2 separate regions of the Homo sapiens genome follow, and region 2 is linked to region 1. Evidence: fine-mapped expression QTL. A gene starts in region 1. The other region holds a variant in brackets. All regions are shown on one strand. Distances are between the middles of the regions.

What was found. PIP is the estimated chance that this variant, and not a neighbour inherited with it, causes the effect.
Region 2: its variant is fine-mapped to the expression of BCAT1 in blood mononuclear cells (TOPMed, PIP 0.95).

The regions. Positions count from the first base shown.
Region 1 is chr12:24,946,076-24,951,462 of GRCh38, forward strand. It overlaps BCAT1 (branched chain amino acid transaminase 1), which reads right to left and starts at 3,026. Exons shown (of 11, transcript NM_005504.7): 1 at 2,852-3,026. The coding sequence starts at 2,857. BCAT1-DT (BCAT1 divergent transcript) reads left to right here and starts at 3,088. Exons shown (of 3, transcript NR_199054.1): 1 at 3,088-3,255. RefSeq lists enhancers at 2,920-3,269, 3,390-3,479.
Region 2 is chr12:24,895,513-24,900,899 of GRCh38, forward strand. All of the region lies in intron 2 of BCAT1 (branched chain amino acid transaminase 1), which reads right to left. Among named protein-coding and RNA genes, the nearest start is that of BCAT1, 51 kb to the right of the region's middle. The variant G/T (reference allele first, on the strand shown) is at 2,819.

The sequences.
Region 1 (5,387 bases):
AGGCCATTTAAAGAAGCTGGCAACCTGAAACCCCAAAAGATGTAACTAATACAAAGGCTCAACATAGCTGCCATTTAGAAACAATCTTTCATTTATGCACAGGAATAATTTACTCATAAGCCCAGCCCTCTCAGTTAGGTTAATAACACCACTATCAGTTTTCCAGCTGTTTACTTCCCTAGCTTTATTTCTAGACATGAGAAATAAGGAACAAAATATATAATTAGGAAAACAATTGGAATGTCAGCCTACGGACAAAACTGAGACAAAATTTATATAAGTAGAGAGTATATTGAGGTCAAATTTGAGGACTGCAACCAACGAAACACCAAATCAAGTTGCCCTGAATATATACAGCAGTTACAAGTGGGTTTTTAAAAGAAAAAAGAGGCAGTTTCTAAGTTGAGAAGAATTTATATTAAAATAACATAAACTATATAAACTATTGATAGGCTAAACATTGTTTTTTTGTATCACAAATTCCAGGAACATAATGAGTGAGGCAGTTAGTCAGGAACAAAATGTCTTTAAATAATTACTCCTGCGCATGCGTACGGGGGGACGTGACTGAAGTCTCACACTCCTATCTCTCTGGGCCTGATAAATTGTGTAGCCTTCACAAAGCTCAGATCGCTCTGCGCTATTTTTCTTTTTTCAGGGAGTTGCACAGCTACTGACAGAAAGCACATCTTGGTTTTAGTCCATAGTACAAAACTCAATTGTGATCGAATGTTTTCAACTTCCTTTCATAATAAGGTTTTAAACTCATTTCAAATAATTAGATCTGGTTCTAATGAGCTGAAAAGCAAGAGAAATTCTTGCGTAAAAAAGGAAAAATATTTTTCCCCTTTTCTCTCTGTAGTTCTGAAATCCAGTGAAATTACTCATTACTGAAACTTATCAGATGAAAATATTGGCCAGCATTAAATTCTTTTCCTCCCCAACCCCCACCTCTTTTTTTCCTTTTTCTAACCACCACCCTTTTGTTAGGCCAGCTTAACTAGCTTTACATCTCTGAGCCTAGCCTGAGGGGCCACATCCTGTGTCTGGAATGTAAAACCTCTCTCCCCACTAGGCCTCCCGTCTTCCCTCCACACACACACACACACACACACACACACACACACACACACACACGGACTTCCCTTGCCTCCAATCCCATTTACATGTGTATCATTTTTAAATCCCCATCTAAATTTATTAAGTCATAATACTCACTTACCATTTTTGTACACATGCTACTCAGTGTATATCCTATGTTTCTTATCCAAGTTGCCCATTCTGCATGTGTCTGTCTTAAAATACAAGCTCATGCATGACTTAAGCCCGGAGAATTTGCTGAGGACAAAGGCAATCAAGATGCCATGTGCAAATAACATTTTTTTAAAAAATCAAGCTTGTGATAGCAATACATATTTAAGAGATAAGTGGAAAGATGTTTGAAATATTGTGATAAAACTAACTTAATGGAACCTTCCATACTTCTTCGATCATACCTAGAATACAATCATTTCTTTCTTAATCTTAGGAAATATCAGGAAACAGAAAAGAGACTACTTGTAGATATCTTACCTAGTTCCCCATGTTATAAAAGTATCTTGTGGAAGGGACAGGGGTTTTTGGACCTACAAAAACGCGTAATTAACCACAACTGCACATGGACAGGAAAAAGCTGGAAAAGCAAGACTGTTCATTCTTAGTTTTCTCCTTTTACTTACTAAAGCTATAATCAACTAAAGTGTGTTTTTCATCTGAAATGAAACAAGCATGAGGAAGCCAGAAATAGAACCTCTAACTATAGAAGAAAAGTTGTGTGATCTCTGTTGAATACAAAAACGCATAGTTTCCACTCGGTTACTGTTTAATTGTAGTGAAAGTTTTTGTTTGGCAACAAAGGCGCTATTTACATATTATTTCTTCTAAGTGAAACTATGGTCTGGGATGGGTTGTAGATAAGAGCAGTTGAGAACCACGCTTCATCTCCCTCCTTAGAAACTCTGAAACGAGGCTTTATTCCTACCAGAAGTTCAGATTGCATTATGGTCATCTCAATTCCAAAATGTTAGATGGCAAGAATATCTGCCCATCCTTCACTTTCCTTGGAAAAAGTTGCTCTTCGGGTTTTATATGCGATTGCAGTTTTCCAGTGTGTGAAACTAGGAAAACAAAACACTCAACGGTGTACATCCCTACACCTAAATAGTCAGAAATAATAGGCAGCTAGGCTAATTATCCTTGATTAGCAAGATCAGAGCCATTAGGGTGCTCACTGGTTTAACAAATGAATGCCCTTAGGCGTCTATCATTTGTAACTCCTAGAAGCTTTAATTTCCACAAGAAACAAAATAAGAGGGGCCTTCTGCTTTTAACAGTGAAAAGATCGTTCTCCCTCCCCTCTCCACCCGGGTCAACTCTTCCAGCCGCTCCCTCCTGCATCACGAACACACGCTGCAGGAAAGCGCATTTACAGCCCGGGACATCCCCAGACCTCCTCTCCAAAATTCCCCACCTCCTGTGCATAGGAGAAACTGAGAGAAGCCCTCACTTCCTTTCCAAACTTCACAAGCAGGGGAGGGAGCTGTAGCAGACTTTCACCTCCGTTCCCAAAAGCGAATGTGAAAAAGTCCGAGAAGGCACGTCCTGCGAGTGGAGGTTAAACCGAAATCTGAACAGAATGCACGGTCCCCGCAAACTACGATTGATAAAGAAGATACTGAGACGTTTGCGGGGGATATAAGCCATGGTTGTCTCGCCTTCCTCCCCTCCCTGCCAACTATGTTTCTTGGAGAAATCGCCGGTTCGATTCACGCACACATTTTTGTAAAACACGGACAAAACCATAAGTAGTTACCTTCATTGTTCCGTCGGCCACGAGGGAAGCTCGAGCTGAGCGGAGGGCAGATCCCAAGGGTCGTAGCCCCTGGCCGTGTGGACCGGGTCTGCGGCTGCAGAGCGCGGTCCCGGCTGCAGCAAGACCTGGGGCAGTGCCCGAGGCGGCGGCGAGTACACGTGGCGGGCTGGATTGCAGACCGGCCCTCTCGCGGCGGAGACTCGCGACCTAGCGGATTGCATCAGCAGGAAGACACTAAGGCTGCTCCCCCAGGCCGCCCCCAGATGGTGGAGTCTCTCCCAGCCCGAAGATTCGGAGCCAGCGCCCAGACCCGAGCCTCACTCACTGCTCACTCCCGGGGTGCAGGGCAGAGGTGCCAGTGTTGCAAGCAAATGACACGGTTACCCCCGAATCAGCCACTGTGGGTGCGTATCCGAGTGTGGGGATGCCCGTGTAACATTTATATGGAGACGTCAAGGAGGAGGAAATAAACAGATCAGAGGTCAAATGTGATTGCCATTCCGTCATCACTGGCTCCTGCCCACCTCCCTACTGTCCCCAAAGTAACTTTGCTGCATGCTGAGAGGACCACGGCACAATCCTGCCCAAAAGTATACATGTATCCCCCGCGGCTACTTTAAATGTACTTTTGCAGTAGTCAAGAACATGTGCCTGGTTTGCCGATCTCTTTCCCAGAGTTCCTTAGTCACCCTCAAATATAACCATTTTTGCCAATTTATTATGTACATGGGGGAAAATTTTTAATCCTTTAATTTGAGCATATAAAATTCTTTATAATGTGAAATTGCCCAGTAGCCTAGTTGGTCCCCTGTAAGTTCCCTCCCCACATCTATACAAAGCTCCAGGATTGCTACTTTTCCATGTCCAGCGCCTAGGTCAGCCTCCATGACTGCTTAAGTGTGCTGCTGGTTGACCTCCGCTGCCTCTCTGTCAAGCTGGCAAACTCCTATTTTTGTAAATTTCAACCCAAGTCTTTGCTGTGGAAGTTGCTTCCAATGCCCTCAAACAGAACTGGGCCCTTGGTCTATGTGCTGCACTTTGTCCACATCCTTTCTCAAAATCAATTATTTTATTTTATCATTTTTTAATGGAGATGGGGTCTCACTAAATTGGCCAAGCTGGTCTTGAACTCCTGGCCTCAGCAATCCCCTCGCCTCCGCCTCCCAAATTGCTGGGATTACAGATGTGAGACTGTGCCCAGCTTCTTAATTTTACTTTAATTATTTGTTTGCACAGTTGTCACTTCAGTGGATTATGAGATTCGTAAGGGCAGATCCTTTGTCATATTTATCTCCCATACCAAGTGGCCTGCCGTGGAAGAGAGGGAGTGTTGAAAACAAATGTGTCAGTGCTTAATGACTGTTGGTCAGGTGAATGAATGGTTAAATTATGTGTTCAATAAATGTACTGAGTGATTTCTACATGCTAGGCTGGTATATAACAGTGGTTTGTAATCTGAAATGTCTCAAAATGGAGCCATTTATGACAAGGGTTTCAGCCTCCAGTGAAATTGCTGACCCCTCAAATTGATAAGCATATGTATGGTGGACTGAGGTGATAAGATAACACCTGCTGTGGCCTGGCACCATTGGCAAGAGAGTAAAGAGAGAGGCAGCTGAGATAATGGCTATGGGCACTTGCGGATGCTGTGAAAACCAAAAAGTAATGAAAACCTGAAAGTAACTGACCACAGCCAAAATGCTTGCAGAAGTTCTGCCCTGAGAAATCTGTATCTGTAAGCATTTAATCAGCCATTGAGTCCTTGTGAAACCTCCTGGCCCCCGTCAGTGAAAGCACAGCTAGATAGATTTGAACCTGACACTGACATGAGACAGGCAATGTGCAAAATGCTAGGGACTGAGTGGGAAACAACAAAAATGTTCTTACCCTCATTAAGCTCATATACTAGTGTGAGAAACAGAAAGTAAGCTTTAAATCAGGTAGCAAAATGTTTATCAACTGAGGAATGGCTAAATAAAACATGGTATCATCCATACAATGGAATATTATTATATTCTGCAATAAAAAGAAATGAAGTACTGATTACATGCAGTCACATGGATGAACCTTGAAAACTATGCAAAGTGAAAGAAGCGTCTCACAAATGACTACATATTATATGATTCCACTTATCTGAAATGTGCAGAACAGGAAAATCCATAGAGACAGAAAACACATAGTTGTTTTCAATCTGGGGACAGGGTGGAATGCAGAGTGAATGTTCATGGGCGTTGGATTTCTTTTTGAATTGATTAAAATGTTCTCAAATTAGATTGTGGTAATGGTTACACAACCCTGTGAACACACTAAAAACCACTGAATTATACCCTTTAAATAGGTGAATTGTATGTTATGTGAATTATATCTCAATAAAGATGTTACTCTATGGCCCGGCATGGTGGCTCACACCTGTAATCTCAGCACTTTGGGAGGCTGAGGCAGACAGATCACTTGAGGTCGGGAGTTCGAGACCAGCCTGGCCAACATGGTGAAACCCCGTCTCTACTAAAAATTAGCCGGGCGTGGTTGCGGGGTG
Region 2 (5,387 bases), 51 kb before region 1:
AAGACTCTGTCTCAGAAAAAAAAAAAAGAAAAGAAAAGAAGAGAAAAGAGAAGAAAAAAAGAAACACAAGAGAAGGAACTTTTTGATCAGTTAAAAAAACAGGGGCAAGTTCAACCTGTAACAGGTTGTGAAGGGATGTCAAACTCCATCTCTTTGAATATACAAAAAAAGTCTTTTCCCTCCCAAATTAAATACAGACCTTCACTTTACATCATCAGCTCTTATCATTATTTTTAAAATGATCTAATTCTGTTTAATTCACTGCCTTGCAGCTACGTGAGTCATTTGATATATTATGAATGATAGTAAATTGTATTTTTAGAATAATATTCAGGCTGAAAACATATTCCAAAACAAACAGAAAGCTCATATTACAGTGACACAAAAGGCATTAAGGACAGAATATTACTGTAATGTTCAGGCTAGTCTAGTAATGCTACTTTGTAATATGCCAATAAAATGCCAAGTTTCAATAAAAAATTGACTTTGTTCTACCATTATTATTATTATTTTGTATTTTTTTTAGAGATAGGGACTCACTATGTTGCCCAGGCTGGTCTCGAACTCCTGGGCTTAAGCAATCTGCCTGCCTCGACCTCCCAAAGTTCTAAGATTACAGGCATGAGCCACTGTGCCCAGCCTGTTTTACCACTATTTAATTCAAGTAAAAACGTTAATTTAAGACTTTTTACTAAGTATAATAAGTTTATTTAAAGAAATATATTCCAGCTAAATTATTTTTATCTTTGAATCCCTTTTCTCTCCCGTTGTCCTCTGGACTAGGTAGGGGGTCAGGCAGACTTTACTTGCAGACCAAATGCAGCCAGCTGGCCTGTTTTGAAATTAAAATGTTATTGGAACATAGTCACGCCATTCTTGTATCTTCAGTGGCAGCACAGCCAACTAGTTGTAACAGAAACCTGATGGCCCTCAAGCCTAAAATATTTATCATCTAGCCATTTAAGAAAGTTTAGCAGGCCGGGCACAGTGGCACACCCTGAATCCCAACACTTTGGGAGGCCGAGGCGGGTGGATCACCAAAGGTCAGGAGTTTGAGATCAACCTGGCAAACAGCACAACCCTGTCTCTACTAAAAATACAAAAATTAACTGAGTGTAGTGGTGGGCGCCTGTAATCCCAGCTACTTGGGAGGCTGAGGCAGGAGAACTGCTTGAACCTGGGAGGCAGAGGTTGCAGTCAGCAGAGACACACCAGTGCACTCCAGCCTGGGCAATAAGAGTGGAACTCCATCTCAAAAAAAAAGAAAGAAAGTTTAGCAACCCCTATTCTGGACTATTTAGACAAGAAGTCTGGCTAGAGTATTCACAGTTGAATTCCAAAGCTAACACAGTGCCTAGCACACAGAATAGTAAAGGGTTTCTTAAATACTGAAGATGTCTGGCTGCTTTCAGATACACTCACAGAAGATGTCCAGGATTTAAAGAGAGTGAAATTCTAACACAAACTTTTTATTACATGAATAGTTTCACAGTATTCTTGCACAATAAACACCTGTGATTTACCTTAGTTAGCTTTTATCAGTGAATGGGGAGGACCCTGGGCTAAGAAACATTTGGAGCCATATCAATACAGTACGACAAACTTAATGCAAATTTTCTTCTACTAAGACTACTTAGTAAAAGGGGAAGGGTAGTAAAACACAAAACAAAAACAGAAAGATGAGAGTGGGTGACAAGAATGATTATGATCCAGTATATATAATTTTTAGTTTTCTGAGACCTCTCCTTAAAATACCCATAGGACCCACAATAACCCACTAATCCAGAGAGATCAAATTAGCGGCAAAGCAGGGATAGAATAAGGTAATTTTTAACCTCAAATAAGTGTTCTTATAATTAGAACTTCATAATATCAGTTAAATTTCTGACAATTAAAGATAAATTATTACATTTCTAGGTATGACTTCTATTTCAGTAAACTGCTACATTCTTTCGTAAGACACATTATTTCTTAATGATATGAATAGCAACCTCTAACTTTCTGATTTGTACCTAAGCACTGCCCTGTATCCAGTTTTGTTTTGTTTTGCTTTTTCTTTTAGATGGAGTCTCACTCTGTCACCCAGGCGGAAGAGCAGTGATGTGATCTGGGCTCACTGCAACCTCCGCCTCCCAGGTTCAAGTGATTCTCCTGCTTCAGCCTCCTGAGTAGCTGGGACTACAGGCATGTGCCACAACACCCGGCTAAGTTTTGTATTTTTGGTAGAGATGGGGTTTCACCATGTTGACCAGGCTGGTCTCGAACTCCTGACCTCAGGTGACCCACCCACCTCGGCCTCTGAAAGTGCTGGGATTACAGGTGTGAGCTACCGCGCCCGGCATATATCCAGTTTTTCAAAGTAATATACGATTAGGTGGCTTCAGAATCTCATCATGAACTTTTCTCTACTTGAAAAAAAAATTCTGCAACTCTGAAAACTAAAAATAACAACTTTTAACCTGAGCTCAAAGAGAAATTACCTAAGAATACTAAATTACTAGGTGATAGAATTGAATAAAGTTCAAACGTAAACAAGCAATATTAGCTGAAGACATGTGACTCGTTTGGGGCAGATATGAAATGTAGTTTTAAGGGAACGATTTGTTTCCTAAAGGAAACAAATTTTATAAACAATTTTTATCAGTGTTCTTTAAAAAGTATTTTCTTTTTCTAGATTTCCTTTCCAAAGATAAATAAAAATAATATTTTGTCAAATGATACTTTCTTCTGCATAATTAATCTGTCTCTTTCCAATGCTCCACATTCCCTGATGACATCGAAGTCAGGATGTTTCACATCATATGTTTGTGGAAGAATT[G/T]GAATGCCACAATAACTGATTGTGAAATGGCAAGAAATATTGAGAAAAACAGGGCATATTAAAAACAACTTCCTAATTCAAAGTTTGCAGTTGGGTAATCATTTGTTCTGAAATAGGGAGGCTCAGGGCAGGGAAGTGTAAATTTGTTGAAAGCACCTGAAAACTGTTTCAGCCAGGGTTCAGTCAACACTTTTTTTTTTTTTTTTTTTTTTTTTTGCTCTGTTGCCCAGGCTGGAGTGCAGTGGCACAATCTCGGCTCGCTGCAACCTCCGCCTCCCCGGTTCAAGCAAGTCTCAAGCCTCAGCCTCCCAGGTAGCTGGGATTACAGGCATGTGTCATCGCACCTGGCTAATTTTTGTATTTTTAATACAAACAGGGTTTCACCATGTTGGCCAGGCTAGTCTCAAACTCCTGACCTCAAATGATCCACCCACCTCAGCCTCCCAAAGTGCTGGGATTACAGGGGTGAGTCACCATGCCAGGCCTGTCAACACCTTTTGCTCACCATCGTATAGCACATTTGCTCTTCTCTTCATTGGCCACATTTTTCAAAAATCAAGTCTGTATTACAACTGTATCAGACATTTAATAACTTTATTCTAGGTTCTTGTGCATTATTCTTACTCCATTTGGAAAGCCTTAGGCACTATGTTCATCTTTTGGAGATACTCTTTTAAAATCTAATAAAGAGGATCATGAAGAGAACTGCAGATTTGCAGTGTTGCATTCTGTGGAGATATGTGAAGCTGGAGGAATTGGAAGAAATAGATGGCTGACCTCTTGCAAATGAAGAGGATCCTAGAGTCCACAGAAAGATTCGCCAGGATGTGTAACAACGTATCTCATTGCTAGGCCCTGCTGCAAAACTGCATCCTCATGTAATATGACTGCATCATAAATGGGGAGGGGAGAAGAAATACGAAAACTACCCAAGAGAGACCCAAAAGGCCATATGAAATGTTATAAATGATGTAGATTAACAAAAAGGTAGAGAAATATGTCAAAAGCAACCACAGTTAGAATGGTTATTATTAGAAAGACAAAAAATAACAGATGCTGATGAGGATACAGAGAAAAGAGAACGCTTATACACTGTTGGTAAGAATGTAAATTAGTTTATCTACTGTGGAAAATGGTATGAAGCTTTCCAAAAAAAAAACTAAAAGTAGAATGACCATATAAACCAACAATCCTACTACTGGGTATTTTCCAAAGGAAAGGAAATCAGTATATCAAAGGGATATCTGCAGTCCCATGTTTATTACAGCACTATTCACAATAGTCAAGACATGGAATCACCTAAGTGTCCATCAATGAACAAATAAAATGTGGTGCATATACACAATGGAATACTACTCAGCCATTAAAAAAGAGTAAAATCGTGTCATTTGTAGCAACATGGATGGAACTGGAAGTCATTATGGTAAGCGAAATAAGCCAAACACAGAAAAAAAAAAAAACCCAGAAAAACAAATATTGCATGTTCTCACTCATACGTGAGAGCTAAAAAAAAAAGTTGATCTCATGGAGGAAGAGAGTACTCATAGAATGATAGATATCAGAAGATGGCAGGGGGTGGGAAGGGTGTAGGTGGAGGAAGAGAGGTTGGTTAATGAGTACAAACATACAGTTAGATAGAAGCGATAAAGTCTACTGTTCATAGCAGAGTAGGGTGATTATAGTTAACAACAATGTAGGCTATATATATATATTTTGTTTGTTTGTTTGTTTTTGTTTTTGTTTTTTGAGACAGAGAAAAGTATATCAAAAACAAAGATGGTCTATAAAATCTACCATTTTTATTCCCTAAATTATCAATATCATTTTTACACATGCCTTATTACATATGTGCTGTGAATACATCCACCATAACTCATGTTTTGATGTGTAAATACATGAGTGTAAACAGGCAATTCCCCTAAATAAAACCTAATATACAGAAATCTAAATTAACAAATAAAAAAGATTATTTATGGCCAGGCATTGTGGCTTATGCCTGTGACCCAGCATTTTGGGAGGCCGAGGTGGGAGGGTTGCACAAGCCCAGGAGTTGGAGATCAGTCTGGGCAACACAGGGAGATCCCATCTCTACAAAAAATGACGAAATTAGTTGGGCCTGATGGCATGCAAGCCGATAGTCTCAGGTACTTGAGAGGCTAAGAGGATCACTTGAGTCTGAGAGATCAAGGCTGAAAGTGATACCTAATTGATGGTGCCACTGCACTTCAGTCTGGGCAACAGAACAAGACTCTGTCTCAAAAAAAAGAAAAAGAAAGGAAAAGATTATTTAAATTTGAGTTGATATTTTTCTTTGCAAAGAATTCTTCAGGCTAGGCTTGGTGGCTCACGCCTGCAATCCCAGCACTTTGGGAGGTGGATTGCATGAGGCCAGGAGTTCGAGACCAGCCTGGCTAACATGGTGATAACCCCATCTCTACTAAAAATACAAAATTAGCTGGGCGTGATGGCACATGCCTGTAATCTCAGCTACTCAGGAGGCTGAGGCAGGAGAATCACTTGAACCTGGGAGGCAGAGATTGCAGTGAGCTGAGATCGTGCCACTGCACTC